2 linked regions of the Homo sapiens genome follow. The protein of the gene in region 1 purifies or fractionates together with the protein of each later gene. This does not show direct contact. Each region holds a gene or a part of one and is shown on either strand. Other genes may lie near its edges.

Evidence for each region. Proteins that work in one complex are often made in the same cells at the same time.
Region 2: the proteins of CD36 (region 1) and ITGA6 purify together in Homo sapiens (affinity purification with western blotting, with the first as the bait; one study listed by BioGRID). This does not show direct contact.

What each region holds. Positions count from the first base shown.
Region 1 is NC_000007.14:80,666,142-80,669,641, forward strand, and holds part of CD36 (platelet glycoprotein 4), read left to right. Parts: intron 1-301; coding exon 302-348; intron 349-3,500.
Region 2 is NC_000002.12:172,430,586-172,434,085, forward strand, and holds part of ITGA6 (integrin alpha-6 isoform b preproprotein), read left to right. Parts: intron 1-3,500. UniProt on the Homo sapiens protein: Integrin alpha-6/beta-1 (ITGA6:ITGB1) is a receptor for laminin on platelets. Integrin alpha-6/beta-1 (ITGA6:ITGB1) is present in oocytes and is involved in sperm-egg fusion.

The DNA of each region.
Region 1 (3,500 bases):
CCTAAGTAGAGATCTAAGTTTCTGATAAATGTTTTTAATTTTTTTCTTATTCCAAGATGTTTCTAATTAACACCTGGCAGTTTTTATTTTATGATCTGGCTACCTAATGGCATCAGGTACATTGCAATAAGATAAAAGGTTCAAACAAAACATAAACAGAATTGAACATTTCTTAAACTTAGTACTTGTCACATTTAAATGCATCATATTAACAGAAGTATTGAATTATAATAGAAAAAGTAATGTAAGAAAGGTATTCTTTAAATAAGAATGTTTATTCATTGTCTTTTTCTATTCCTAGGAATCTGTCCTATTGGGAAAGTCACTGCGACATGATTAATGGTACAGGTAAGAATATTTGTTTTGTGGTCATCACAGTTAATCCACCTCCCTTTCCCACAAATCCACCGTTGTACTGACAGTGTTCTGAAAGTTGAGGGTGTGTGTTTACTTGCCTTTATATCCCCACAACAAAATTCAGAGTCACTATTTGTATATAGGCTAAAGGTCTGTTCAATGTGATGGGATTTGTAAAGATTAATCATAAAAAATTAGCCCTTACTGCATGATTCAGAGAAATGTTTGCTTTGTAAAAACTTTACTGCCATCCTGGCAACAGAAGTAAATGGTAAAAAACAAACAACAACACAAAACACTTTAGTTACATTTCAAATATTTTATAAATAGTATACAGATAAGTTAGAATTGAAAGAATTAAAAAAAGCTAATTACAAAATAGAAAACATATCTAAGCAAGGCTTATAGCTGAGATAGAATAAAGTTGCAAGACAGAACCATCCATTTTTGGATAAGGTGGTCAGAATGAGAGAGAAAACAATAACAAAGTCAGATGTCTTCTTAACTGTGAAAAATATATGTAAAAAATGAGCATTCATAAACTTAGATTTAAGGTATGGTTAGATCAGGCTTATTCTCCTTCAGGAAAAGCAAAGTACAGATATGCCTATTAGTTTAAGAATTAAGATTTTTAAAAAGCAATGGGAGGCTGGTCACAGTGGCTCATGTCTATAATCCCAGCACTTTGGGAGACCAAGGCAGGTAGACTACTTGTGCCCCGGAGGTTGAGACCAGCCTGGGCAACATAGCAAAATCCCATCTCTACAAAAAAAATACAAATATTAGCTGGGTGTGCTGGCACACGCTTTTAGTTCCGGCTACTTGGGAGGCTGAGGCAGGAGGATCACTTGATTCCAGGAGGTGGAGGCTGCAGTGAGCTATAATTGTGCCTCTGCACTCTAGCCTGGGCAATAGTGTGAGACCCTGTCTCAAAAAAAAAAAAAAAAAAAAAAGTGGTGGGAATCGAATACCATGAAGTAATTAATATCCAGAGGCAAGCTTTCAACTACTAGGAAACAAAAGCATGAAGTTTAGAAAATTAGGGAATATCCCATAGGAAAATGATATAACAAAGATAAAGACACTTAAGTAAAAATGAAGTACAGAGAATGTTTACTTTGCCAAAGGTATGATTATTGACTTCGTATGCGTACTTGATTCTATCATTGCCTTGTAGGAAATGATAAACAAAAAAAGCAAACAAAAAAAACAGCAAAAACACTGTTGGATTTGCAGGGGTTTTCTTTTGTTTTTTTTTTTTTTTTTTTTTGAGACATAGTCTGGCTCTGTTGCCAGGCTGGAGTGCAGTGGTGCGATCTCGGCTCACTGCAACCTCTGCCTCCTGGGGTTCAAGTGATTCTCCTACCTCAATCTCATGAGTAGTTGGGACTACAGGCATGTGCCACCACACCCAGCTAATTTTTGTATTTTTAGTAGAGACGGTTTCACCATGTTGGCCAGGATGGTCTTGATCTCTTGACCTTGTGATCCGCCCCCCTCGGCCTCCCAAAGTGCTGGGATTACAGGCTTGAGCCACCACACCTGGCCAAGGCTTTGCAGGGTTTTGAGCCATAGGAGTGGGCAAATAAGCTATTTTCTAAGTAAAGCATTTCTGGAAATAAATTTTCAAGTCCTCAATACTACCAATGCTAGTAGTTGTATAAGCGGAATACTTAGTCCTTAGATGCAGAGATAAATATACTGTGTTAATCCTAGTAAAGGATTCTTTAAGGAGAAAAATCTTTAAAAAGAAGATTCATTGACAATAATAGAAATGCATGAGCATCAGGCATGATGTTAAAAATATCTATGGGGAAAATAGGGCTGATACAAACTAGGAAAAGAGGGAATTTGGACAGAGCAGGGGATGATCCCTGTGAGAGAGATTCTTGCTTATGGCACTAGCGAAAAGAAAGTAATAAAACAGTAAGGTTCTAATGTGTTTTCATCGTAATTTAGAAGTGCATCCTCTTTACCTTCTTCAGTAAGTTTGAAAAGACTTAAAATGAAAGTATTGGTATACATTTAGAATGTTTCTTTTGGGAGGACAGAAAAAAAGCTCTGCAAATATCAACTATGTTGCAGTCATTGTCCATGGTAGTTGCTGGGTATAATTAGGACATAATCTTCAATGATATTTTAGATAATGATCTTAAAAGCTTTTCAATGCATTTTTCTTTAATTATTAAGGAAATGGAAAAGCAGTTGTTGTCAATGTCCATATGGGGGCTTATATTTTACTTGTCACAAGAGTGTAAACTAATGAAAACAAGGTCACAAGGTTGACACACTTGCCAGAGAAAGAACCTACAATGCATAATCAAAGATGAGACTTACCATTTAAAACTCATTCAATGACGGCTCGTATTAGTGATATTCATGTGAGAAGTACATGGAGGAGTTAACTATTTCTTCATATATCCAATGTTTGCCATGGATCATAGCTGTAGCAAAAAGTAAATTCAATAAATGACTTTTTTATACACTTTCAAAGCATTTGAAGTTCTGTTTAGTGAGAGAACTTTAGTAAATATTTTTAGAAGTAGTAATCAGCCATTAGGACAAATGAGAAAAAAAATCACTACAAATAAATGTGGACATGGCAGGAGATCCAAATGAACTTCACTGGAAGAAAAGTGCCACTCTACTGGTGGGGTAGGGCATTTCAAAAAACAAACACAATGTTAGCCTTAACATTTCATGTTTAAGTTTCTTTTATTTTGTACCATTAAATATGTATAGTATGTAGATTTGTTGTTGACAATAGCAGCCGCCAGCCATATGTAACTGTTAAGGACTCAAAATCTGGCTAGTATGATTTGAAATGTGCTGTAAATATAAAATGCACAGTAGATTTTGAGACTTTAAGAATTTAAAATATTTTATAATGGTTACATGTTAAAATATTTTGGATATTAATAAGTTAAATATAGTTTTGTTTTGTTTGAGACAAAGTTTTCCACTTGTCGCCCAGGCTGGAGTGCAATGGCATGATCTTGGCTCACTGCAGTATCCGCCTCCTGGGTGCAAGCAATTATCCTGCCTCAGGATAGCTGGGATTACGAGCGCCTATCTCAGGATAGCTGAGGCAGGCCTATCCTGCCTCAGGATAGCTGCCTCCCAAGTAGCTGGGATTACAAGCG
Region 2 (3,500 bases), on another chromosome or scaffold:
TCTATAGTGCCTTTAACTATTCAGTCACATTTTAAACTCCAGTTATGACTTTTGCAGAATAATATTGTGTCAGAGAGCCCCAAAACATGTCGGGTGTTCCTAAAGCTTTGGAGACTATAAAATTGAAGTAGATACCATAAACTTCATCCAGGTTTTCAGGCTGTATATTAAAGAAGTTTCGGACTCCAAAAGATTACTCAATGGTCAGCCAAGTTGGTCCGCCGAGTGACTGAGGTCAGGGTCTGAGCACCTTGGACTCTTTAATTTCTCTTAGGTAGTTAAGATTGAGTCATTCCCAGAGGTGGAAGGTATGTGATGATGACTGTGGGTATATCCAGCCTATGAATCATCACTCTTAGCTCTTCTGGGAAGAGATGGATCTATATATGATCACAGGGAAGAACCTAGAAGAAGGAGATCTATAAGAGATAGTCTCATGAAGTCATTTTGGATTTCTGCCAACCCTCATTTTCTTCTTTATGGGGTCTCTCTCTCTGACCACCACTGTCTTCCAGAAATGCTCCAGGCCCGCGGTCTGTTCTGTTCTGACCCTTACTAGGTTTGTTCTTGACTTTTCTCAGACTTGTCATGTTCCATCTCTTAAAATCATATTTTCTGAACTAGAGATCATCTAGTCCAACTGCCTCTTTTTACAGATGAAGAAACTGAAGCTGAAAGTTCAGCTTGAGCAGAATCTTAACAGAATGTGGATTTGAATCTCTGACCCATGCTCATGCCATTTTTAAATGGAAAAGCCAGAAATGTTCTTCAGACCTAGAGAAATCGGCAAGCATCTGAATTTTGGAAGTGTACTATATTGTGTTGATTTATCAAACTGCTTCCCATATGCATAGGTCAGGGCTATCTATTTAAATATTGGTGCCTGGACTCTTACTATTGACTCTATTCCAGCTGGCCTTGGAACAAGTTCTGGGTCCGTCCTTCTTTGCCTGCCTCCACCCCATTCCCTTCTGAAAAAGCCCAGTGAAGTGTGGCTGTAGCTAGCCAAGAATCAGAGCTGTATTCAGGATGTGTACCTAAGCACTTGCTTCCTTGCATTTATTCACTCGGAGTGCCATGTGGCCCAGGGCCATCTTCCAGGGATTGCTGGGTCACCTTGAATGCTAAGAGTAGAGAAAAAGCCAAAACGGGCAGCGAGACTTACAGGAAGTCTTAGGACTCTGCAAGAAAGCAGAAATAGGCAAGTTTAATTTTAACACAGGCTGGTGTGAGACCAAGTAATGACAGGGTTGGGGAAAAAAAGGGTCAAAGTATTTATATGGTATAAATAATTTGTTGGGGAAGTCAGGATAAATGCTTATATAAAAGGATTCCTTTATTATAAAGAAGTGGTTATTCTGTGTTCTCAGTTATATAGACTCTCTTAGCATAACAATATATTGAGATTTAATTTAAGCTTTCATAACCAAATAGTACCAGAATTATGGCGCATGGTTTCCTGAAGACCTCGGCTCAACATATTACTGTGGACAGTGAGGCCAGTGAATTATTTGGTATTTTCAAGAGGGACAGTGAGACAAAACAGAAAATACTGTTGTAAGCTTAGATGACAGGGTCAATTGTGCCTGAAACACTGATTTAGTGCTGAATCAGCCCATTTTAAGAATATAATCATAGCTTAAGAACCAGTTTAAAATTTCCCCATCCTACACTAAAGCAATGTCTTTAACTCCTTTGGATGTCTGTAGCACATTGTGTCTGACAATTCTGATGTTTTGTGCTAAACTGTGATCCACTATCTTTAGGACATGATCTAATCTCTCCCAACTGGATTGTAGGTTATGTGAGGGCAGGGGTCTTACATTCATTTCTTTGCCTGCTAGCACCTAGCATATGCCTTGCAAATACAATAGAGACTGATATTATACACTCAGTTTAACCTGTGACATCAACTCTTCCTGCTGAGGGTGGAGAGAGGGAGAAATCCCTTTCTTTAACCCTTTGCCCTTCCTTGCTCAGGCCTTGGTGTCTTCTGCCTCTGAGGAAACGGAATCTGTAAGCTTAGCAAAGAAACGCACAAGACGTTAATTCTTGGTTTTTGATTTTTCAAAGGCGGGGGGTTCCAGCTAAGGGATTTTCATGAGTGTTTGTAAATTTCACCTGGCTTTTGCCCTAAAGGCAGACTTTAGAACCTAACCCCAGAAATACAGGCTGACCTACACTGCAGTGGGTACTCGGGACTTGCTGAGGTGGTTGGTTGTTATGAGGCTGGACAGAGAAGGATGACTGTGGAATAGAGATCTTTCTGAAAGCAACTTGACAGGGGTGTGGGGGTCAAATGGAAGTGTGCAGTACACGTGTGAAGTCACTTGTGAATTGATAGCGGCAGGTTTATTTCTTCAAGGATAGTAAGGGAATCTTGGATATATTTAACTCTTTCGGTAGGATGGTGGGAAGGCTGCTTACCTGCTCCGGGGGTGAGCCTAGGAGCCATAGCATGGGATCTGGGGATCTGTGTAGCACCCCCGCTGGCTCCTGGGAGGATGGTAAAGATTACGTACTGCAGCAGTGGGAAGTGGACGTAGTCTCAGCCCCCGGTGCCCATCTTCCCTTTCTGGGCTTGGGTACAACTCTGGAATCAAATAACTTTATATCTGGAAGGAAGCTTAGGGGTTCTGAAACCTGGCTGGTCTTCAGGGTAACTACTTGGGCAACCTTTTATAAAAGTGTGATTCTCAGCCCAGCCTAGATCTGTTACGTCAGTTTCCATAAGTGTGCTCCAAGAAGCTGTTCTTAAAGTCTTCTTCGTTTGAGTCAGACTAGCTTTTCTCCTTTACACAGAAGGCAGAGTGTAATGTAGTGACTAAGAGCAGAGCCTAGAGCCAGGTAGGATCAAACCCTTTTCTGCCATTGACTAGCTATGATTTTGTGCAGGATTCCTAACCTTCCTAGGCCTTCCTGCCTTCAGCTGTGAAGCTAGTATCCTCGCACATTAGAATAGTCCTGGTCCAGAGTGAGCATTTTGTGTTTGTTAAATAGATGAGGAAACCAAGGCTGTAAGAGGTGCAGTGGTGGCGGCATGTCTAGCAAACTTGGTCTTCAATCTGCATCTTCCCTGCTTCCCGGCCTGTGCTGTGTATGTGCTTTCTCCTTTTAGGTTTGGTTTTCATCACGTTTAAAGGTTTGGTTTTCATCACATTCTCCCTTTCTTCCATTCCACTCTCCAGTTGAAAAGTGCATCTCAGAAGAGCCATGCCTTCTACTTAGCAGCCCTTCGTAGCTACTAAGCCATAGATAAATCCCAGTGAGGTCTCAGTGTTCAGAGATGAGTGGACAGATGGGTGCATAGACATGACGGGGCAGTGACTGTGAGCTGGATACCCATGGAGGGTGGGTGGTGCAGTTATAGGTTGGGCTTACTGCTAAGGAATACCACCTGTCTGGTTTCCAGGCCTTCTTAGACCTCTATGACCTTGAAAGCACCCCCACACCTCCATCCCTAGGAGGCTGGATAACTTGCACAACACCCAGGGCAGGTT